Linked DNA regions of Homo sapiens. The protein of the gene in region 7 purifies or fractionates together with the protein of the main gene of each other region. This does not show direct contact. Each region holds a gene or a part of one and is shown on either strand. Other genes may lie near its edges. The genes, in order: SPDEF, PNISR, GPATCH8, RBM25, NKAP, GPATCH2 and CDK11B.

Evidence for each region.
Region 1: the proteins of CDK11B (region 7) and SPDEF purify together in Homo sapiens (affinity purification with western blotting, with the first as the bait; one study listed by BioGRID). This does not show direct contact.
Region 2: the proteins of CDK11B (region 7) and PNISR fractionate together in Homo sapiens (co-fractionation; one large-scale study listed by BioGRID). This does not show direct contact.
Region 3: the proteins of CDK11B (region 7) and GPATCH8 purify together in Homo sapiens (affinity purification with mass spectrometry, with the first as the bait; one large-scale study listed by BioGRID). This does not show direct contact.
Region 4: the proteins of CDK11B (region 7) and RBM25 fractionate together in Homo sapiens (co-fractionation; one large-scale study listed by BioGRID). This does not show direct contact.
Region 5: the proteins of CDK11B (region 7) and NKAP purify together in Homo sapiens (affinity purification with mass spectrometry; 2 studies listed by BioGRID, with this or other methods). This does not show direct contact.
Region 6: the proteins of CDK11B (region 7) and GPATCH2 purify together in Homo sapiens (affinity purification with mass spectrometry, with the first as the bait; one large-scale study listed by BioGRID). This does not show direct contact.

The regions. Positions count from the first base shown.
Region 1 is NC_000006.12:34,546,330-34,549,829, forward strand, and holds part of SPDEF (SAM pointed domain-containing Ets transcription factor), read right to left. Parts: intron 1-3,500. UniProt on the Homo sapiens protein: May function as an androgen-independent transactivator of the prostate-specific antigen (PSA) promoter. Binds to 5'-GGAT-3' DNA sequences. May play a role in the regulation of the prostate gland and/or prostate cancer development.
Region 2 is NC_000006.12:99,408,309-99,411,808, reverse strand, and holds part of PNISR (arginine/serine-rich protein PNISR), read left to right. Parts: exon of another isoform or gene 1-844; coding exon 845-1,068; coding exon of another isoform or gene 1,069-1,092; exon of another isoform or gene 1,093-2,463; intron 2,464-2,464; coding exon 2,465-2,636; intron 2,637-3,500.
Region 3 is NC_000017.11:44,426,907-44,430,406, forward strand, and holds part of GPATCH8 (G patch domain-containing protein 8), read right to left. Parts: intron 1-3,500.
Region 4 is NC_000014.9:73,114,034-73,117,533, reverse strand, and holds part of RBM25 (RNA-binding protein 25), read right to left. Parts: intron 3,249-3,500; coding exon 3,201-3,248; intron 1-3,200. UniProt on the Homo sapiens protein: RNA-binding protein that acts as a regulator of alternative pre-mRNA splicing. Involved in apoptotic cell death through the regulation of the apoptotic factor BCL2L1 isoform expression.
Region 5 is NC_000023.11:119,920,172-119,923,461, forward strand, and holds the end of NKAP (NF-kappa-B-activating protein), read right to left. Parts: 3' UTR 501-3,290; downstream 1-500. Other genes in the region: AKAP14 (A-kinase anchor protein 14), read left to right, coding at 337-436. UniProt on the Homo sapiens protein: Acts as a transcriptional repressor. Plays a role as a transcriptional corepressor of the Notch-mediated signaling required for T-cell development. Also involved in the TNF and IL-1 induced NF-kappa-B activation.
Region 6 is NC_000001.11:217,429,292-217,432,090, forward strand, and holds part of GPATCH2 (G patch domain-containing protein 2), read right to left. Parts: intron 2,075-2,799; coding exon 1,854-2,074; 3' UTR 1-1,853. UniProt on the Homo sapiens protein: Enhances the ATPase activity of DHX15 in vitro.
Region 7 is NC_000001.11:1,635,005-1,638,504, forward strand, and holds the end of CDK11B (cyclin-dependent kinase 11B), read right to left. Parts: coding exon 3,496-3,500; intron 2,880-3,495; coding exon 2,758-2,879; intron 2,510-2,757; coding exon 2,404-2,509; intron 2,199-2,403; coding exon 2,077-2,198; intron 2,001-2,076; coding exon 1,893-2,000; intron 1,850-1,892; coding exon of another isoform or gene 1,795-1,849; coding exon 1,678-1,794; intron 1,478-1,677; coding exon 1,329-1,477; intron 1,123-1,328; coding exon 933-1,122; intron 853-932; coding exon 760-852; 3' UTR 221-759; downstream 1-220. UniProt on the Homo sapiens protein: Plays multiple roles in cell cycle progression, cytokinesis and apoptosis. Involved in pre-mRNA splicing in a kinase activity-dependent manner. Isoform 7 may act as a negative regulator of normal cell cycle progression.

The DNA.
Region 1 (3,500 bases), on a different chromosome or scaffold from region 7:
ATCCTCTCTAACAGTGACATTTATGGTGCCCTACTGGGACAGCAGGAGGGGAAGGGGGCTCCCTGATCCATCTCCAGTTACCCTGTGAGACTGACCCGCGCAGCCTCCGTATGCAGCTGGCATTTGCTTCTGCAGGTGGGACAAGGGAAAGAACCCAGTCTGGAAGACACCTCCACTTCGGTAGGGCCACAGCTAGCCCATTCAATTTCACACAACTCAGAAAATGACATCCCTTCCCCCTGGATAGCATAGCTTGACGAATGGAGCCTAGGTAGAATTTCAGCTTCCTCTGCCCACCCTCCTTGTGCAGTGCCCAACCTTCCCAGTGTTACATGGCAGCCCTGCAGCTTCCTGTGGTGGAGAAAATGCCAGCAGGAGGGAAGGGTGTTCCCTTTGATTTCAACTCTCCCATTCAAGGGCTCCTTTAAGTGACAAGGAAGGAAAGGTCAGGGTGGGGTGGGGTGGGCAGAGACCAAGGCGGGGCTGGGGATGTGGGGGACAGAGGGCAGACCTGGAATCATTTCAAGTCCTTCTGTGCAAACACTCGTGTGTGCTGTGGGCCCACATTATTTACTCAGGCAGTGCCAACAGCTCGCTCTGCCCCTGGGCCCCACCCTGCCTGGTGCCCATGCCCTACCCGCTAGGTGGCTCCACCCCTGGGGACCCCCCCCCGCAGCCCCCCACCCCTCCTTCATCACCCCCTGCCTGCCTCCTGCCCCGTCCACATCCCCAGAGCCCCCATGCCTGCCACGTTAGGACAGTCTCTGCCAACACCCTGGGCGCCATGCCAGGGAGACAGAAGCTTTTCCAAGAAGCAGAACTCGCTTCCCTTGTGGCCCTCCTGTTTGCTTGGCCTCAGCCACAGGTAGGACAGGAGGCAGCTGCTGTGTTTCAGGCATGGTTGTGTGGGGTCGGTGGGGATGAATGGGCAGGGCAGGTGGCAGCTTTTGCCAGGAAGGCATATAATGACACATCCTTGACACATTTGCTGAGTGCATGTGAAGCCCTCACATCCATCCCCTTGCCAGGAGAAAGGCAGCACAGGCCTTACTCTCTCTTTTTTTGAGATAAGGTCTCGCTCTGTCGAGTGCAGGGGCATGATCATGGCTCACTGCAGCCTCGACCTCCTGGGCTCAAGTGATCCTCCTGTTTCAACCTCCCAAGTAGCTGGGACTACAGGTGTGTGCCATCATGCCTGGCTAATTTTTAAAATCTGTTGTAGAGACATGGTCTCACTATGTTGCCCAGGCTGGTCTCGAACTCCTGGGCTCAAGTGATCCCCCTGCTTCAGCCTCCCAAACTGCTGGGATTATAGGCACAAGCTACCTCATCTGGCCCAGGTCTTATTCTCATCCCTACTTTGCTAATGGGGAAGTCAAGGTGCAGAGAGGTAAATCCCCAAATCCAGGTCTTTTGACTCCTGGCTCGGGCTCCTTCACCCTCTATACCCCACATTCCAGCTTGACCTTGCCCTATACCTAAATGCCAAGGAATCTACTCCCCACCAAGCCTCGGTCCTAGCTCCAACACTTCCCTGATGAAAAATAAGTTAATGGTTAACTGTGTGGTTGGAGGAAAGGTTCGACTCTCTGCAGATCAGGGGTGGTGGGGAATGCTCCGTCCCCAAGGCAGCCCAGGCCTAGAGTAGGGGGGCTTGGCTTACTGGTCAGGCAGCCAGGGCTGGTGTGCCCAACCTGCAACTAGGCGTCTCAAGGTTCTGGGCTGGCCTCAGGAGGGAAGAAGAGAGAACGGCACTGTGAGCCCCTGGCAGTGAGCACCAGTGCCACGCCCAGGCTTTCACCCACATCACCCGCTTTCCTACCCACAGCCAGGGTGACGTGGACTCCAGAGCCCTGCTTTATAGATGCGGACAGTGAGGCTCAGGGAGGCTGTGCAGCTTGTCCAGGGTTCTTCCTGGCCAGGTGTGGGTTCTGCTCACTGGACCACATTCTCTCTGAGGTGCATGCTCTGGCCAGTCCCATCTTCCTAGGGGATCTGCCCACCTCCTGACTGGGCTCCTTGATGCTCTAAAGTCTGTCCCCACCTCTTGGCTCTTCATTCCACCCCACTGTTCATATCCCTGCAGCACCCTTTCATCAGACACCCCTGTGCTCAAGAATCTCCCATGGCTCCCCATTGCCCCATCCCAGTGGCTGGTGCCTACCTCTGAGTCTACCTCCTACCTGGCCCAGATAATCAGAGCTGGAAGGGGCCATATATTATGTGATTGTTTCATAGAATGGGAACAATGAAGCCCAGAGTGGGGAAGGGATTCATGTGCTTATTAGCAGCAGGGTCCGGACCAGAACCAGGGATTGACATAGTGACCACAAATCCAAGCTCTAATGAGAATGGCATTTCATACCTGCCCCTGTGCTGTGGGCACAACATGGCTATTTTCTAAGATGCCCTTTCCTTCTCATCACAATTCATCCCAAAGCCCTCCTGCCCCAGCGAGCCCTCCCTAATAGCTCCCTCCTGCGACTTCCTAGGCTCGCCTCATCTGTGCCATGCAATTCAGCCCAGGATTAAATCCATCAGTGATGGTCCACCCATGGGGACACATGTGCACTGGAAAAGCTCAGGCTCAAAGAGTGGCAGGGAGGTGCCCACAGTCACACAGCACAGCCAGGGCCAGACCAGAGGCCTCCTGACACTCAGGCCACTGCTCCGTAGGCCAAGGGTCCTGGGACGTGCCAGGTGTCTGCCATGTCCAGGGTCCTCAGATGGCAGGACCCAGCGTTCCTGCAGCCTTGGCCTGCCAGTCCCACGGGCTGCCGTCTCCTGAGCGATGCCTCCAGCTCCCAAACCTCGAGTTGATCTCTTCTGGATTAAGCCACATGTCTGGATTAAGGCTCAGCGTGTCCTGGCTCCCTCCTGCTCCAGAGGCCCCAGATCCCACTCCAGACAAAGAAAGTTTGGTAACAGCTGGTGGAGGCCAAGGCCCAGAGACAGGAGCAGAATGGTGGGGTGGCGGCCAGGGGGATTAGCCACCTTGGGCCCCTTCTCTCAGCGCCTTCCATTCCCCCAGGAAGGAAGATTAAGGAAAGTGAGCAGAGGGACCCAAAAGGAGAGATTTAGTGCAGCTTTTCCTGCCACTACCCTGCCTACTCTCACCCCTCGGGGCTAGAAATGTGCCCCTTGAACCCTTTGCCTCCCAGGTTTTCACTCCCACACCCCAACTGGCATCAGCAAAAGATGCCCTCCCTGACAGCTCCCGAACCACAGTTTCCGGGAATGGAGTCACCTGGGAGGCGTTTGCTAAGGACCCAGGTCGCTGTGCGGGTTGGAGCCTGTCTTCCATATCCTGCTTGGTCCCGGCTCTCAGGCCCTACCTCCTGGGGAGATGGTGGTGTGGGGTAAATGTATCCTCACCCCTACCTCAATCCTGAGACCCAATGCCAGCCCGCCCAGAGCCCAAGACCCCAGCTTTAGTCCCCATTGAGAAGAGCACTGAGGGAGTGACAGAGATGGCCACTCTGGCCCTGCTGCTCAGCCCC
Region 2 (3,500 bases), on a different chromosome or scaffold from region 7:
AAAAAAAAAAAAAAAAAACCTTAAAACTTAGTCAGGCATAGAGGCGCATGCCTGTAGTCCCAGCTACTTGGGAGGCTGAGGTGGGAGGATTGCTTGAGCCTAGGGGATTGAGACTGCAATGAGCTGTGATCACGCCACTGCACTCCAGCCTGGGTGACAGAATGAGTCCCTCATTTAAAACAAACAAACAAAAAAAACGAGAATTCAGATTACTTTTAAAAACATAAATATTCTAGTCTTTGATACTGTGAGGTGGTTCATTTCTAGCTTTCTTGAAAGTGAAATTTCCCCACATTTGAAAATGTTTTAGTTCCTAAGTTTAAGTTCTTAAATGACTCCCGCGGGCATCCCTACCCCTTAGTTTTACTCTACTTTGTGACCCTGGGCAAGTGATTTACCTCTGTGTGCCTCGATTTTCCCTCCCGAAATTGGCAAAAATAATACCTAATTTCTCCCTACCTCACAGGGATGTTGTGAGGATAAATGTGTTCGTGTAAGAAAGAAATTATATAAAACCTCAAGGTATTATTTTTGTGGTGTTGTTACTAAACAAATATAAAAATTCAACAAAAATAGTGCTTTGGATTTTGTTACATTTGTTAAAAATAACTTTGGGCATTTGGTTAGGATATGAATTAGAGTGGAGTTAGCTCATTTTGAATTATATATGACAGTTTAGTTCATTGCTTATTTTTAAGATAAACAAAAGGAATTTGACCAAGAAGTCATAAGTTGTTTTTTAAATCTGTATGTTTACTGAAAAATCTTTCTTGAGATCTTAAAATTCTGTGTTGATTTTGTTATAACCGCCTGTTGAATGTTTTTATGCCTAAATCTTAAATAGAATGGGGAATGCATCAGCAACCCCCACACCCCCCTCCAGATCAGCCATGGATGCCACCAACACCAGGCCCAATGGACATTGTTCCTCCTTCTGAAGACAGCAACAGTCAGGACAGTGGGGAATTTGCCCCTGACAACAGGCATATATTTAACCAGAACAATCACAACTTTGGTGGACCACCCGATAATTTTGCAGTGGGGCCAGTGAACCAGTTTGACTATCAGGTGAAAGATATTTTGTTGCTTTAATATTGTAGATGTGCACGTAATCCATTCTTTGGAAGTGTCTCATCAAGAATACCTAAGATACGTGTTTCACTTTTCAGACTTGTATAAATAAGCACATTCTGTCTCAGTTATCAATTTTTGAGTATTAAAATAATTAGAATTTGTTTTCTGATTTTTTTATTTCATTAGGAAAATGGTATAAAAGATCATTACGGAAAACTTTTGAAAAAATTAAAAATGTATAAGTGCAATAGCTATATGATGTTTTATTTTCTAATTTATATTTCAAAATGGTATATTTAAATGTTAAAGACTAGAGAATGCACAGTAATTGAATATAGCTCATGGTTAAGACATGAATAAAAAATATAGATCATTTTCCTAAGTGTAATTCCTTGTGCTATGTAGAATTATGACTGTTTTTCTAGTGTCATTTTTTTTCCATTCTGACATGACATGTTAATGGAATTGTATATAATTTCCTCTGTAGCATCCAATTCATTCCTAGGGACATAGAACTCTGTGGGGAATAGTGTTGTATGTTGGGCTTTATTTACTTCATTCCCTCTGCCAGGGTCTACCCTTAAATTATAGTGCTAGGTGTCATTTTGAAATAACTGATTGCAATTATTAACTTATAAACTGCTATCATAATTTAAAATTTTGAAAGAATTATTTCATGAATTCTAGGGTAGATTTGATAATGGACATCTAGTATTCACCTTGAGATGGTAATCCTCTCATTAATAAATATTCAGATACTTGTATACTTGGTATACAGATACAACAGTTTTTATGTTGTTTGAAGAAATATAATGGCAGGGAGCATCTGCTTACCCTACTTTTGCATGGTAGATCCCATGTAAACAAGACAAAGAGCTGTATTGGCAGCTGGCCTAGAAAAGCCTCTGAAAATAGCAAAATTGCAGAAAATATTTAATGATTCATTAACTTCTATCTTTGCTTATAAATGAATATATCTGCAAGATTATAGAAACAGCTTAAGTTGTTTAGTTCACTTTTTGTTCACTGTAAGTAGGATGTTGAAATTGACAAAAATGTCTAGTTAAAGAGAAATTAGTATCTATTTGATGTCTTAGTGTTGGTAGGATTAGCTTGTAAATGGATTCAGAATGAAAAATTTCATATACTTCTTGAAAGTAGCTTATCAGCTGGCTTTTAGAAGCCTCTTTGCATTTACATAGCCGGAAAATCTTAAGACAAGTAAGCCTAGGTTCTTGGGACCATAGAAGTATCGGTGGATATTAGAGCCATGGAATTCTTGGATGTGCTGCACACATGGATTTCTACTGTCCCAGTTCATAACACACGTGTGTCCCAGAGAGTATATTGTATTAATTTGAAGAAAAAATAAACTGCAATACTCTTTCAGCATGGGGCTGCTTTTGGTCCACCGCAAGGTGGATTTCATCCTCCTTATTGGCAACCAGGACCTCCAGGACCTCCAGCACCTCCCCAGAATCGAAGAGAAAGGCCATCATCATTCAGGGATCGTCAGCGTTCACCTATTGCACTTCCTGTGAAGCAGGAGCCTCCACAAATTGGTAGCTATTTAACTTAGTTTAGTGGACCACAATTGGCATGACTTTTTTATCATATAAAAAGGATGTCTTGTTTTCTTAAAATTGTTTGAGTATCTCTGATGTGTTAGGAATTGACACTTTATTTTTTATGGTCATAAAGCTTAAAATTACAAAAATGATACTGGTCTGAAATTAAAAGGTTTAAATAATTTTATTTAAACCTTTACATTAAATTCCAGATTTTGTGATGAAGTGAAAATTTATGCTAGCCATAGCATGTTGGTATTTTCTTCAGTGTAGGCATTTCAGTACATTATACAGATATATGAGCCCTTCTCCTTTTAAATCTAATTGTTCAATCTCTGTCCACTCTTAGTTCATCTGATGCACTGCTGTCAGATTAATTTTCCTCTGGTTATTTCACTTCCCTTAAGTATTTTGGCAGAAAATTTCAATTTTTTAAATAACATTATAGAGCCAGCCTATTTCAAGTGACAAATACATATTTATGCCACTTTATATCTGGAAAGTTCTAAATTGTTCAGTATTTAATGGACAGGAGCATTTGTTAATAAATCTTTACTTTTTACATTTTAGGAAGATTCTAACTTTACTCCTTTTTTAACTTACTAGCAAATCACTTAATTTTTTCGAGTCTCAGTTTCCTCACCTGTGGAAAAAAGTGGAGTAATAGTAGTGATCTCTGAGGGCTTTTGTAAGGATTAAATTAGATGATGGTTTAACATGCTTTCATTGTGTCCTGGCAGATTGTAAGCACTAGAGCAGTGGTCCCTGCTGTTACTAAAAGTGATGGCATTGAAGAAAGGCATGATATTTAATGGGATATTTTTTAAATTTACTCACAAGTTTGTAGAAATATTTTAC
Region 3 (3,500 bases), on a different chromosome or scaffold from region 7:
AGTGGTACAATAAATACTATAAGATATCTAAGGAAAGAATTAACTTAGGATTTTATATGTATCTTTCAAATATAGGGAATACATACACGTATATATGGAGTTATATGTATGTGTACATATATACACACATATACATAAGTTGATATATATGTAATTGCCTAAATTAATATTACTATTTTTTTTTTTTGAGACAGCGTCTTGCTCTATTGGCCAGACTGGAGTGCAGTAGTGCAATTACAGTTCACTGTAGCATCGACCTCCTGGGCTCAATTAATCCTCCCACCTCGGCCTTCTGAGTTGCTAGGACCACAGGGGCATGCCACTATGCCTGGCTAATTTTTGTATTTTTCGTAGAGACAGGGTTTCATCATGGTGCCCAAGGCTGGATGTGAATTATTTTTATAGGCTTATGTTTATATAAAATACATATATATATAAATAATTCAAGAAACACTGTTTGCACAACCACTTTTAAGTAAGTTAATAGGGTACAAAATTCAGAAATAATAGAAGAAAACTCAGCAAAAGAACTGGCAGACTGCTTTAAAACCATTTACTCCTATAACTAAGGTTAAAAGAAATAGGGCTATTAAAGTATATACATATAACTGTAACATATACATATAACTATGTATGTTATATGCTGTCAGAAAATAGAAATGATACAAATAATAAAAAACTGGGTGGGCAGGCAGAAGCAGATATGAATTTGAGTTTGCTTACTTCTGCAAACTCAATAGAAGTAAAAAGAACTTTACAAAACATGAAAATTATTAAGTAATAGAAGTAGTGTACATAATATAATAATTAAATGGTATGAAGCCACATACTAAGAATGGCCATTTTACTTATTAACATTATATGATAGAGTTTTTAAAATGGAAGAGGAAAGAAGAGAAAACAAGCTAGCTTTTTATTGCTTATAGTACGAAAATAATGGACACTCAAACATGGGTAATTTCATTAAGTTATAAAGGTAACTAGAACAACACAAATATAATCCATCCTATATCCATCCATCCATCCATGTATCCATCCATCCATCCATTTATTTCCCACTTTGAGACCACATAATAACTTAAAAAATAAAATAGGCCAGGCGTGGTAGCCCATGTCTGTAATTCCAGCACTTTGGGAGGCCGAGGCAGGCGGATTACCTGAGCTCAAGAGTTTGAAACCAGCCTGGGCAACATAGCAAAACCCCATCTTTACCAAAAATACAAAAAATTAGCTAGGCGTGGTGGTGTGCACCTGTAGTCCCAGTTACTTGGAAGGCTGGGGAAGTCCTTCAAAAAGTACTCGTAGGCTGGGTGCGGTGGCTCATTCCTGTAATCCCAGCACTTTGGGAGGCCGAGGTGGGTGGATCACCTGAGGTCAGGAGTTTGAGACCAGCCTGACCAACGTGATGAAACCCTGTCTCTACTAAAAATACAAAAATCAGCCAGGTGTGGTGGTGGGCGCCTGTAATCCCAGCTACTTGGGAGGCTGAGGCACGAGAATCACTTGAATCTGGGTGGTGGAGGTTGCAATAAGCTGAGATCGCACCATTGCACTCTGGCCTGGGCAACAGAGTGAGACTCCATCTCAATTAAAAAAAAAAAAAGTACTTGTAGAGGCCAGGCATAGTGGCTCACACCTGTAATCCCAGCACTTTGGGAGGTTGAGGTGGGTGGACAGCTTGAGCCTAGGAGTTCAAAACCAGCCTGGGCAACATGGTGAAACCCTGTCTTTACAAAAAATATAAAAATTAGCTGGGTGTGGTGGCATGCACCTGTAGCCCCAGATGCTCGGGAAGCTGAGGTGGGAGGATCGCTTGAGTCCAGGAGGTCGAGGCTGCAGTAAGCTGTGATCACTGCCACCGCACTTCTAGGTGACAGAGTGAGATCCTGTCTGGGTGACAGAGTGAGACCCTATCTCAAATAAACAGTACTCATAGAATATTTACACAGACAAGGCCAGGCACGCTGGCTCATGCCTGTAATCCCAGCACTGTGGGAGGCCGAGGTGGGCGGTTCACGAGGTCAGGAGATCGAGACCATCCTGGCTAACATGGTGAAACCCTGTCTCTACTAAAAATACAAAAAATTAGCCGGGCGTGGTGGCAGGCACCTGTAGTCCCAGCTACTCGGGAGGCTGAGGCAGGAGAATGGCATGAACCCGGGAGGCGGAGCTTGCAGTGAGCCGAGATGGCGCCACTGCACTCCAGCCTGGGCGACAGAGACTCCATCTCAAAAAAAAAGAATATTTACACAGACAAAAAGCCCATTATAGGCTATAGAAGAAACTGTAATAAAGTCAGAAATGAAGAAGTAATATGCACAACATATATCAACACAGTATAATACAGCTAAGAATTAACAAAAATGTTTAAAAGACCCTTCCATGAATCTGAAGCTGCAGAATTTTAAGGTAAAAAAGGATAATGACAACATTATACAGAGGCTAAAGTATATTGCTTTAAGAAGTTAAGCCTATGTGTATTCCTTGAACACAGGTTTAACCCCTTACAGCAATGGAAACAAGAAAATAAATAAATGTCACACTCTGGAGAAAATCTTGTGTGTATATATATATACAAGAAAACTGATTCCACTTATATAAAGTTAAAAAACATGTAAAACTAGGCCACGTGGTGGCTCACGCCTGTAATCCCAGCACTTTGGGAGGCCAAGGCAGGTGGATCACCTGAGGTCAGGAGTTCGAGACCAGCCTGGCCAACATGGTGAAACCCCGTCTCTACTAAACACACACACACACACACACACACACACACACACACAAAACAACAAACAAACAAACAAACAAAAACCAGCTGAGCATGGTGGCACGTGTCTGTAATCCCAGTTGCTCGGGAGGCTGAGGCACAAGAATTGCTTGAACTCAGGAGGTGAAGGCTGCAGTGAGCTGAGATCGTGCCACTGCACCCCAACTTGAGTGACAGAGTAAGACTCCGTCTAAAAAAAAAAAACAAAATTAGCTGGACGTGGTGGCGCACGCCTGTAATCCCAGCTACTTGGGTGGCTAAGGCATGAGAATTGCTTGAACCCGGGAGGCACAGGTTGCTGTGAGCCATCGTGCCACTGCACTCCAGCCTGGGCGACAGAGCAAGACTGTCTCAACAAAGCAAGACTGTCTCAAAACCAACCAACCAACCAACCAACTCACCGACCCACCCACCCACCCACTACATAAAACTAAGCAATACATATTTAGGATACAAAACACATTAAAAAACCATTTTAAAATGCAAGGGAAAATAGAAGAGGAAGGAACACTTCCTAATTTATTCTGAGTATTACCCTGATACAAAGACATTACAAGAAAACTACAGACTAATATCTTTTCTGTGTACAGATGCAAAAATGCTCAACAAAATGCTATCAAACCAAATTCAACAGCATATTAAAAGGCGAAGTGGGATTTATCCCAGGAACTCAATGTTGGTTCAACATACAAAAATCAATCAATGTAATACACCACTACAATGTAATACACCATTA
Region 4 (3,500 bases), on a different chromosome or scaffold from region 7:
AGAGACTGGGCACAGTGGCTCACGCCTGTAATCCCAGCACTTTGGGAGGCCTAGGTAGGCAGATCACCTGAGGTCAGGAGTTTGAGACCAGCCGGGCCAACATGGTGAAACCCGTCAATACTAAAAATACAAAAATTAGCCAGGCGTGCGGGTGGGCACCTGTAATCCCAACTACTTGGGAGGCTGAAGCAGGAGAATTGCTTGAACCCAAGAAGTGGAGGTTACAGTGAGCCAAGATCGCGCCACTGTCACTCCATATAGCCTGGGAAACAGAGCAAGACTCTGTCTCAAAAAAAAAAAAAAAAAAAAAAAAAAAAAAAAAAGAAAAGAAGAAAGAAATTAAAAGAAAGAAATTTCTGTCACTTTCTCAATGATAGCAATAATTAATTAAAGAACTTTTGATCAGATTTCTATGAGCCAGATTTGACTTTAGTTGAAGAACTCTGTTGTAACACTAATTCACATCTGAGTCACACTTCAGAGAGATGTAGGCACAAAATGCAACCAAACTTCATTTAATTTACATAAAATGAAAAAGGTATAATATAAAGAAGTCAGACTTTTGTTAAGAGTGAAACAGTACTCAGGCTAAAAATTCAGTCTCCTCATTTATTCAAGAAATATTTACAAGGCCCCATGAGCTTTTTAGCAGAGCTGTTTGACAACACTAGCTCAACTGGTTTCCTCTCATTCTAATCAACGAGCCACAAAATCATAAACAGTGGTCTAAATACACTTCAAATATCAATATATTACAACAGATCAAAAAATCTAAAATTAACACTGACATGAAATCTTTACTATGTATGATAGGAACTCTGCTGAGGCCAAACGCTAGAACACAGTTTTATTTAAAAAATGTCTTCACTCAGGCCTAACTACGACACCCTCTACTCCAAGAAAAACGGGGCTGGAAGCTTCAGGAAAGTTCAGAATTCAGCCCCAAGGACTGAAATCTATTCACATTTCTCCTTTCCTCTGAGGCAATGAAGTTTTCACAAATGTTTTATCAGGTGTTCTAAATGACAGCTGCATCAAGCTAGCTAGGCAGCAGAAAAGGAATGTTATCTGGCTTTAGACACCATAAAATGCCTGGACACAAAGCAGCTAGACCTCACAATCCTTCTTTTTGACTATAAACCCCACGATGTCCCTCCCTGACATCTCTGGTGGCAGTTCCAAGTGCAAGTACTCCCAGTCATCTACCATTTCATATCATGCTTGATGATTTTTCCTTCCTTACTCATCTTCCCATTGCTGTCTTCCCGCTCTGCCCTTTGGACCGCTATTCCATTTTATACTACACATCAACAACTAAATTAGGTTTTTCCTCTTAACAGAAACCCTCCTCTATCTCCTAGAGCCCCGGCACTTCTCAGGCAGTCTCTCACTCTCAATGTCTTAATCTCCACAGGAATGACTTGTGGGTCTTCACTGTTTCTTTCTTGGTAAAAAAAAAAACAACTCCATGGACGTTCATGAGCTCTCACCACCTTATCCACTGTAAGAGCAGCTATCTGGCAAGTATCTAGTCTTTCCCCCCACTTAAATGAGTGCTCTGGCAACTATTTCCAGTATTTCTCTCCAATCTGACTCCCAATACCCAGGAATTTCCCATAGTCATACTATGCACCTTGCCATCGTCTGGGCTGACCTATCACATATAGACTTGAACTTTCTACACTCTGACCATAACCTCTCCTTTCAGTTGTTTTATTACAATTCGCCTTCCACAACTTCACTGGAACCACTAGTCCTTAATTCATTCAAACCACCAGCTCTATTCAGATACTATTTTCTTCTCTTCCTAACTTGGAGATCATAGTTCAATCTCTTGCTCAACCTTTACCATCAATTTTCTTCTCCTTTCCTTGTCTCACAAAATCACAGTGTTAACTACATGCTACCACTGACTGTAATCCCAAATTAAATGCAACGGGGATTTGATGTTTACTGTCAATACAACAGGTGTTTGGATACCTGTCCAAAAAGCAGCACATATGTACAATCTTGTGGCCATAAAAAACGAAATAGTGTCCTTTACAGGGACATGGATGGAGCTGGAGGCCACTATCCTTAGCAAACTAACACAGGAACAGAAAACCAAATACAGTATGTTTTCACTTATAAGCGGGAGCTAAATGATGAAAAAACATGAACGAAGAGAGGGGAACAACACACAATGGGGCCTATCGTAGGGCAGAGGGTGGGAGGAGGGAGAGGATCAGGAAAAATAACTAATGAGTACTAGGCTTAACACCTGGGTGATGAAATAATCTGTTCAACAAACCCCCATGACACAAGTTTACCTATGTAACAAACCTGCACATGTATCCGACTTAAAACACACACACACACACACACACACACACACACACACGTATCAGTTCCTGTAGTAATCCTTGTGATGCTTAACCTAACTGCTATCAATGCCATCAGATGTTCTATCTCCTCTACCTCCATTATCCTTTCTACATATCTAATTCAAACAAGTACATCAAGGTTCCAGTACCTGTATACCTATCTCTCTGCTACTACAGGTCATTTGTTCTACTTTTATGCTTCTAGCACATTGTGCTGGGCATAGGGAAAACATGAATGGAACTGGTGGAAAAGAATGAAGCCTTATTTATTTATTTAGAGATGGGGTCTCACTCTGTCACCAGGCTGGAGTGCAATGGCATGATCTCGGCTCACTGCAACCTCCACCTCACAGGTTCAAGTGATTCTCCTGCCTCAGACTCCCCGAGTAGCTGGGACTATAGGCACACGCCACCACGCACAGCTAATTTTTGTATTTTTCATAGAGACGGGGTTTCACCATGCTGGCCAGGATGGTCTCGATCTCTTGACCTTGTGATCCACCCGCCTCAGCCTCCCAAGTACTGGGATTACTCAAGTTTTAATTCAGGCCTAAAAAAGATTCTGGAACAAAGACAGGCAGGAAGTGAATCAAATTCAAAAGTGAGTTTATATAGATGTTAATTAAAATATTAATAATAGTGCATTTCTGGCCAGGTGTGGTGGCTGATGCCTGTAATCTCAACACTTTGGGAGGCTGAGGCAGGAGGATCACTTAAGCCTAGGAATTTAAGACTACCCTGGGCAACGTGGTGAGACCCCATCTATATTTTAAGACAAAAAAAACCAAAAACTTTTTTTAAATTAAAAGAAATAAAAATAGTGAATTTCTAACTTACCATGGCAACATCATCTAAAATGCTCTGGGGTGAACTATGAGCCATAACCTAAAAGAGAAAAATAATTGTCACATTAAAAATAAATAAAAAATTAACAATACAGTCAAGAAATTTTAAGGTATGAATCCTCAAATTCATACAGGAACTTCTTGCGGCTAAGGAACCATTCTATAAATGTTTTAATTTTCAGAATATCATTCTTCAACGAAAGAGGCACCAAAACCTGGAATATTAATCTCCATAGTGGTCTGTAGTCTAATTTTAAGTCAAATCTCACACAAGTTTTAATGCCACAATAAT
Region 5 (3,290 bases), on a different chromosome or scaffold from region 7:
TTGCTGGAGTGGGGTGGAGGCAAAGTGGGTCATGTCTATCGTTTCTAAGGAAAACTTCAATATCACATAAAATTAACTCATGTATAATAATCCCTTTTATAGCAGCTCTCTTAAAGTATCTTTACATATAAGCTCATAAATCCTTTCATTGACTGGGCTTAAGAAACAGTAAAGGATAGACATAGAGAACCTTAGCTACCTCCCCTCCCCCGCCAATAAAAGAGGCTTCTTGCTTACTAGGAATATAAAAGAGTAAATAGGGAATCCCCTTTGTTTGATTTTAAAAGCTTTTGATTTAAAAATACTTTAAAAGTGTTTGTTTTTCTTCCTTTGTAGACCAGGAATGGTTCGCTTTCGAGAAAACTGGCAGAAGAATCTTACTGATGCCAAATATAGTTTCATGGAGTCATTCCCCTTCTTATTCAATCGTGTCTGATACTTACAGGATGTCTTAGGATTGTTTTTCTCATCAGGATACATTAAAAATACAATACAGCACGTCAAACCACAGAATATTTATTGAGTAATAAACTTGTGGCACACAATCCAGCTGTATTTTTTTGCATTCATTCATTTTCCATTCTGCAACCTCCATCACATTAGCAGAGTAACCAGTAAGTTGTTTTCTATTTTCTAAAGTATTTTTTTCTATCACTATATGTATCACTTCTGAGTCTTACAGGTATAGAGCTGAGTTTAGAGAGTTGCTAAAATTCACCTATTGGACCAAACTAAGGTTGGTACTTGGCTGTTTGTTCCCCATCTGAGCCTAAGTCTCCAGCTCAGACACATCTCTTTATGGGCACAACTGGGAACAACAAAATGGCAACAGTTCTACAGCTCATAATATAACCAGTCTGAAGGGTTCCCCTACTCACAGACCCCTTCATTTACTGGGAGTTAAGCCTCACTGCTAAATAATATATTTTGAAACTGGAAAACTGGGCATGCTGCCTTCCACAATACACCACTATACTCATGATTGCAGGAGGGTGGCTTGGGGACTAGGGGCAATGACACGGGAAGGATACAATCATTGCCCTTACTTATCTTTGATCTTCTTCCCATCCTCACACTGAATAATCACTTGTTCCTACCTTCCCTGTGAACCTCTCTTGCCTGGCTGCAAAATTTTAAGACACCAAAGACAAAATTACATTATGCTCTGAGTGATTACTTACAAGTACATCAGAATATTTACTTACATAGAAAAGCACTGGAAAGGAGGAACACAAAATATGAAAGACAATTGATATGGTACTGAAATTTTTCTTTTTTAACTGTTAGATATTTGTGCAATAAATAAAAAAGGAGGGAAAACCACATCAGAGCAATAGGCAAGGAGGTGGCAAACTAGATAAGTCTCCTTGGAGAACAAAAAATATATTTAAAATACAATAGCCCTACTACAACTGATTTATGGCTCAGGTGACTAAACACAATTTGAAGCAGTAACAACACTCATAAGCTGAAAATAAAATACTTTTAGCCCTTTTATTCTTCTTGCCTCTTTCCCAAAGAATATGCCAATGAAGCTGTTCTTGATGTCACAATATTCATATATCGCAGAATTTCTGCATTTAAACTACCTTGCCTACTGAAAATAAGATAATCATTTCATCTCTAGGAACCAGTAACCAAAAAAAAAATGTCCTTAGAGAATACATTTTTATTTGTTTGTTTATTTAGAGACGGAGTCTCATTCTGTCTCCCAGGCCGGAGTGCAGTGGCTTGATCTCGGCTCACTGCAACCTCCACCTCCCAGGTTCAAGCAATTCTCCTGCCTCAGCCTCCCGAGTAGCTGGGACTACAGGCACGTGCCACCATGCCCGGCTACATTTTTTGTATTTTTAGTAGAGATGGGGTTTCACCATGTTAGCCAGGATGGTCTTGATCTCCTGACCTCATGGTCCGCCCACCTCGGCCTCCCAAAGTGCTGGGATTATAGGTGTGAGCCACCACGCCCAGCTGAGAATAAAATTTTTAAGTGGGTATTACAAAATTCAGGTTTTATTATTCAGGGAAGTAGATGGATTGAGACTCAAAACTTTGGGAACTAGTTTCTTTTAACTTTTGAAAACTACAGATTTATTAGGCTAGGCAGCAACTACAATTAGGTATAAATAAACAGAAATCATTTCAAATTCAGGGGTCATTAATGCTGCTACATGCTGACTCTTATTTTCAGTAGTTGCGGGTTAAAAGTAGACATTTCCTGGAACATATATTTAATAGTATTTAAGACTGTTAATACTGTTTAATTATAAAACTTTGGGCCGGGTGTGGTGGCTCACGCCTATAATCCTAGCACTTTGGGAGGCCGAGGCGGGCGGATTGTTTGAGGTCTGGAGTTTGAGACCAGCCTGGGCAATAAGGTGAAACCTTGTCTCTACTAACTATACAAAAATTAGCTGGGCATGGTGGTGCACACTGGTAGTCCCAGCTGCTCGGGAGGCTGAGGTGGAGGATTGCTTGAGCCCAGGAGGTGGAGGTTGCAGTGAGCCGAGATTGCACCACTGAACTCTAGCCTGGGTGACAGAGGGAGACCCTGTCTCAAAAATAATAATAAAAAAACTTTTGCTCTATACTTTGAAATATGACTGCCTTATTTAAACACTTTTGAAAAACAACCACTTAAAAATATAAGGCAAGCGGGCATTTTACAATAGTATAATCAGAATGTCCTTATCACTCAGGTAATTTAAATTTATCATAGGCATGTAATAATAATGCAGATCAAATAACCTTAACAAAAACGGCCAGGCACGGTTGCTCACACCTGTAATCCCAGCATTTCAGGAGGCTGAGGCGGGCAGATCACTTGAGGTCAGGAGTTCGAGACCAGCCTGGCCAAGATGGCGAAACCCCATCTCTATTGAAAATACAAAAATTAGCCAGTTGTGGTGGTGAGTGCCTGTAATCCCAGCTACTTGGGAGGCTGAGGTGGGAGGATCACTTGAACCCAGGAGGCAGAGGTTACAGTGAGCCGAGATCACACCACTGGGCTCCAGCCTGAGTGACAGAGTGAGACTCTATCTCAAAAAACAAAAAACAGAAAACCAACCTTAATGAAAACAGCCAAAACTTCCTGGGTTCCCTCCCCCATTCACTCTTCTGACCTAATTAAAATTGAACGAAATAAACAAAGGAACAAGACCACGATATCATAGTCCCACAATTTTCCATTTCTCCCCAACTTAAAAACAAACAGAAAGGTTTAAGTGTTTAAAATGAAATCTACTTAGTATATGAAAGACAGTTAAAAATATTTAATATCATTTTAGTTTCTC
Region 6 (2,799 bases), about 220 Mb from region 7:
ATCCAGTAAGAATGCTTCAAAAGAACATCTCTTCTGGTCGTCCATAGTTCCCTAACCAACCTGTCCTCTAGGTACAATATCCCTGGGAAAGAAGATAATTCTCAAGAAATGTACATTTGGCAAACCGTGAAGGCTTTCAAATAGCAGGTTGGACTTCCCCTCCCTAGTTGGCAGGATTTTTTTTAGGGGACCACCTGAGAAAGGTCTGTTACGTGCATAAACCTCCTTTAACACCTTTTAAAAACTCTTCTGGGGGCTGGGCGCTGTGGTTCATGCCTGTAATCCCAGCTCTTTGGGAGGCCAAGGTGGGCGGATCACTTGAGGTCAGGAGTTCGAGACCAGCCTGGCCAACATGGTGAAACTCCGTCTATACTAAAAATACAAAAATTATCCGGGTATGGTCGTGGGTGCCTGTAATCCCTGCTATTTGGGAGGCTGAGGCAGAACAATCACTTGAACCCAGGAGGGGGAGGCTGCAGTGAGCCGAGAGTGCGCCACTGCACTCCAGCCTGGGCGACAGAGGCAGACTCTGTCAAAAAAAAAAAAAAAAAAAAAGAAACAAAAAAACTCTTTTGGAAAGTGACAAGATTTTAAAAACCCATTAGAAAGGTGATTCACATGTGTTATCTCAGTCTTTACTCAACCAGCAAAGGCCATTATAAATAGAATGATAATAATCATCATCATAATAAGTTGTTAATAATGAAGATAATAAATAAAGATCTTCTAAACTAAAAGCAATTTAGAATTTCTGATACTATGAAGCAAATGACTCAGAAACAGCTCAATACTAGGCACGTAATACAAACGACCTCTTTTGCTAGGTTTTAAAGTAACATCTTGGGTCCTAGAAAGGGCAAATCAGTACCATTTACTTCTTTTGTTCACCTTCTAAATGGGTTGGGTCATTGCCAGAAATCTGAGTTCTGGGAGAGCCATTTAACTTTTCATGTAAATTGATTCAATATTGTAATAAATTACTCCAATGATTAAAATTTTAAATCCGTTTACTACACTTGAGTTGATCTTAAAAATAATATCAATCTTTGGGAAAACAGAGGTAGAAGTACATCTGGATTAATAGAATTTACAGTTCAATCACGGTGAATTTAAAAAATACATTTTTCTTTCAATAATTATTTTATGTTCTAAATGAGGTAAAATTTATAAAATCTGCATTAAAGTAAGGTAGAGGGCACTCTGGTGATAACAACGATGAGGTTTATTTTTGTCAAAACATCCAAGGGAAACATTAATTGTTGTTTGTCAACTGTGAACTTCACACTACATTGTCTAAGGATAGAAAATTGATGGGTATCACTCTGTCAGAAAATCCTCACCAAGAAGCCAATTCAAGGAATATGAAATTGACAAGCCTTTCAAACAAAGATGTGTTCGGACTTCACTGATGCGATGGTAGGTCTTTTGGGTTACAATAGATAGGGATGATATAAAACACAATCTTTTCCTGTCTATTCCATTTTAGAAACTGGTGGGTGTGCTCACGTTTGTCTGGGCATTGCAGCACTGCACACATACATGAATTAAGCAAAGCATCGGAAAGTATTGACACATGAGACTAAAATAAATAAGAGAAACGAGCTGCTCTTTATACCTAGAAATAGCTGGAAATTACTGAAAAAAATTAAAGTGCAGAGGTTTTCATTTTAGCACCATGAATTGTGATGAAATCCCATTTCTCTCACTATGGCAGGACTGTATGCAGTAAGGAAGCTAGAGTGATGTGTTTGAGGCAATGTAGATTTTTGCTTCAAAAACAGAAGTCATGTTATCATTTTAGAACAATGGGACATAGTGAATAAAGTCTGTAAAACATTTCTTCTTTGCTTTTCTTAGGCGGATTTTCCTGCATTGGGGGTAGTAGTTGCGGAAGTACTTTTTGGTAGAGGAAATCCAAGTCCTAATCCCTTTGGCCTCTGCATGGCTTGAATTGGCTCAGAGATCCCCTTGCCATCTCGTCCAAGGCCTGACCCAGGCGTCCAGCCCATATTCTGAAGCATTCGGTTTCCAATATTATTTTCTAGGATTGGCTGGGCATTTTCACCTACAAATCCTGAAATGATAAAACAACAGCACACATTAATCAGTATGAACACAGGTGAAGATATTAGGCTATGAAAACGATGTTCTCCTAAGTTTTGTTTTGTTTTGTTTTTCAACCAGGTACTAGAGGGGGTTGCGTATTCATCTTTGGATACTTTTTGTAGTTGAGAGAACAATGGAAGAAAGATCTTGTTTAGAATTTCAATTCTAGCACTTCACAGCAGGGTGAGCTATTCAGCCTCTCTGGGCTTTTGTTTCCTCATCTGTGAAACAGCCATAATACAACCTACATTGCCTATCTCACAGAACTTTGTAGGACAGATGAGATCATGTATGTAAAGAAACTTCTCAGTAAACCATAAAGTACTCTACTAATGGATTTATTTTCATTACCATGTTAGCCTTATGGATTATTCAGAAAATCACCAACCTATATTGTAATATCTCACATTTGCCCATGACCTTGACATTCAACAGAACCAAAACTAAAACCAAACCAAACAAAAAGCACAACTGGTGGCATCTTGAATTCCTAGGAATTTACATTCTTATAATCTCTCTCCTTGTTATTTATTATTCAGTCTGTAACATATGCCTCCTTTAGTTCCTTTCCTCCTTTTCCTTCCATGGCCATGTTTAAATGATTATATAAGTTAGTAGAAAGAAAATAGAGGAAAATAATATTAAAGAGATATATATTATAAAACTTAAAAAATATATTATATACATTTGCAG
Region 7 (3,500 bases):
GTGGGTGGGGGCTGGGAGGACTGGCACAGGGTGGGGGACCACCTTGCCAGAGTGGAGGCCCCCCAGGAGGTAGGAGCTCCCCTCCTGCCTGGGGAAGACACTGGCCCACATGGGGTCAGAGGCCACAGCCGCCCACCCCACCCTCTTCCCCTAGAGCCCGGTGGTCTGCGACTCCCCTCCCACACATGGTCCCGGGTCACTCAAAGGACGACACGGGGAGCTTTCCTCGAAGAATATTTTAATACATTTTAAAACTCAACAACCTTGTATAAAAACCTGTCGAGTCTGCTGGCACAGCTGGGGCTGGGGGTTGGGGGCCGGGGGCCTGTGTGGACAGGGCTGGTCTGGACGAGTGGGTTGGGGCAAGAGGGCATCGCTCATCCCAACACAGAAACAGGTCTCCAGCTCCGAAGATTAAACAATCCACCCGGCTCCCACCAGTTCCTTTCCAAATCACGGCCCAGCCAGCCCCGTGCGTGTCGAGAGTGGGAGAGGGTGTGTGGAGGTTTGTGCTGCCCCACGTGGGCACCCGAAGATGTCCACCCTCTCCGCCCTGGGCAAGTCACGGAGAAAACACAGCTCTTTCCTCCACAACAAGGAAAATGATTTAATTCTACAAATTTACAAACCAAAATACAAAAACAAAACATGGAGCACAAAGTAAGACGAGGAGTTCCGAGTCTCATCGCAGCTCCAGCCGCAGTAGCCACGCCTGTGGTCCCGGCTGAGTTCTCCCCATGACGGGGTCCACTCTGACCTTCAGAACTTGAGGCTGAAGCCGGGGCCCGCGGCAGAGGCCCCCTGGTTCGTGGTGGTAAGGTGGAAGCCCGTCTCCTTCAGGTCGTCGTCACCCTGGGACGAGTCGGCTACCGTGAGAACCCTGCCCAAGCCAGCCCCACCTGTGGGCACGCCCCACCCGCCAGGCCCCTCACCAGCTGGCTGTAGCCCAGGCCTCCCTCAGGGGGCCTCGGGCTGGTGCCCCGCTTCACACGCTGCTGCTCGCTCTTGGCGGGCCACGTGGGGAACATGGAGGGGTCGATGGGGAGGGGGGTCTCGCGGAAATACTCATGCTTGAGGCCGTCCTCAGCGCTGATCCTCCTCCCGGGGAAGTAGGTCAGGAACCTGGGGGGAGAGGGCCAGAGGCCCAGGAGGTGCTCGTGTGCTCCACTGGGTCCCCCAAAGATGGGCTGTGTTGGGACGGGGCTCAGGGCATGGGACGCCAGGCACCAGAGCAGTTCTGGAACGTGGTGAGCCAGCAGGTAGGCCTGGGACTGGGAAGTCACCGCTATGGCTCGGGACCTCCCGCCACCCGGCTGCACTGGGCTCACTTGTTCATGAGGTCGAAGCCCTGGTCTGAGAGCAGAGCCCCGAAGCGCTTGCGGAGGTTGTTGTAGGGGTGCTCGCTGAAGGTCATCTTCTTGACTGCTGGGAGCTCGCTGTAGCCGGGCCAGATTTTCTCACTAGGGGTCCCCAGATCCTGAAAGACAGAGGTGCTTCAACAGCCACACCAAGTGGCCCACAGTGTTGGCACCTGTGTCCCGTCAGAGAAGACAAGCCACCAGGAGGGCTCTCAGTGGCCCTGGTCCCCATCTCAACCCAGCACCTGTGCGCCCCGCAGCCCCATTCCTGCAACTCCTCCACAACCCCACAGCGCACCTGCAGCAGGGCCAGACCCACCTTGAACACCTTGTTGATCTGATCGATTTCTGACTTCCCGGGGAACAGAGGCTTCTGAGTCAGCAGCTCCCCGAAGATGCAACCCACTGACCACATGTCCACGGCCGTGGAGTATTCCTAAGAGGTCAGGAGAGGTGTTCAGGAGGGCCAGTGCCCGCGAAGCTGTGGGAGGCTGCGTGGGGGACAGGGGAGGCACTCAGACGCCCAGGACTCACCTTGGCACCAAGCAGCAGCTCTGGGGCGCGGTACCACAGGGTCACCACGACCGGGGTGTAGGCCTTCAGAGGGGATCCGTACTCCCGCGCCAGCCCGAAGTCACCCACCTGCAACGACAGATGGGCGGCTGTGAGTGGGCCCCGGCAGGTCTCCCTGGGATGGGCCACTCGGAGGGGGGCTCACCTTGAGGATGCCGGCGTGGCTCAGCAGCAGGTTGGACGTCTTGAGGTCACGGTGCAGGATCCAGTTGTCGTGCAGGTGTTTCACCCCACGCAGCAGCTGGATCATCAGGGTCTTCACCTCCCCTGGGAGGGAGGGAAGCTCCCATGTGGACCTGGCTGCCCCCAGCCCAGGGCACTCAGGGTGGCCCACTCGCCTCGGCAGCAACAGAGGCTTCTCAGGGCTTTCCCTGTGGATGCAGCTGGCCCTCCCTGCAGCACTGTCACCGCGGGGGTGACCAGGACCCTGCCCCCACTTGTACGCAGACAGGCCCCTGGGGCGCGGCTGTACCTGGCAGGAAGGGCTGTTTCATGGTCTCCATCAGGCTCTTGAGGTCGTGCTCCACATAGTTCATCACGATGTAGATCTTGTCCATGTTGCTGCCCACCACAATCTCCTGCAGGGCACGGCTCTGTGGGTGCTGGGCACCTCCAGGCCCCCACCCACCCCTGCACCCGGGTGCAGCTGCTGAGGGACAGTAAGGACCTCCGGTGCCACCCGGGAGGCAAATGCTTGCTTCTGTGTGGTCTGTGAAGGGCTCCACTAAGTGCAGGAGAGTGTAGGAAGCACCCGGCCCCAGGACAGCACGGGGCCCTGTCAGAAAAGCCTTCCACCCGGGGCCAGGCGTGGTGGGGCCATGCTCACTCTAACGGTGACGATGTTGGGATGCTGGGCCTTGAGGATGGTGTTGATCTCCCTCAGCGACGTGATCGGGAAGCCCTCCTTCTCCTTCTCCATCTTCAGCCGCTTTAGAGCCACAATTTCATCTGTGAAGAAAATACAGACGGCACTGAGAGGCATTCTCAAAGTCACGGTACCAACAGTGGACTCGTTCAGTGAGGACCGCAGGCAGTGCCCAAAGCGCCAGCATTTCACGGAGGGGGGTCTCGTTCTAGGTGGGGGCACGTGGGCACCAGGAGAACGCCCCAGCTGAGGTCTGGGCAACACCCACGGCTTCCCACTCAACACACCACAGACACTCACAGCCACCTACAGCCACCTGGGATCCCAGCGGCCACGCCGACTCCACATCGACTTCCCCAACAGAGCCGGCCTCACCTGGGATCCCAGTGGCCGACTCCCAACAGAGTTCCCGGCTCACACACCTGCTTGGGTGGGACGCTGGGAACGCAAACCTGCACACCAGCCCCGGCACAGACCACTCCACGCGCTGGGCCTCGGCCCTGTGGGGCAGGCCGCCTGCTACTGCAAGGGAGTGGCAAAGCCCCAGGGCCAGGCTGACCTCTGGCTTCTAGAGGTGCTGAGGGGTCCAACCTCCAGTAGCTGCTCAGGTGAGGCGGGCCCAGGTGCAGTCGCAGCTCTCGGGCAGCCAGCCCCTGCCCCACTTCCCCTGCCTTTGTGGGGTGAGGGGACCCCACCCACCTGTT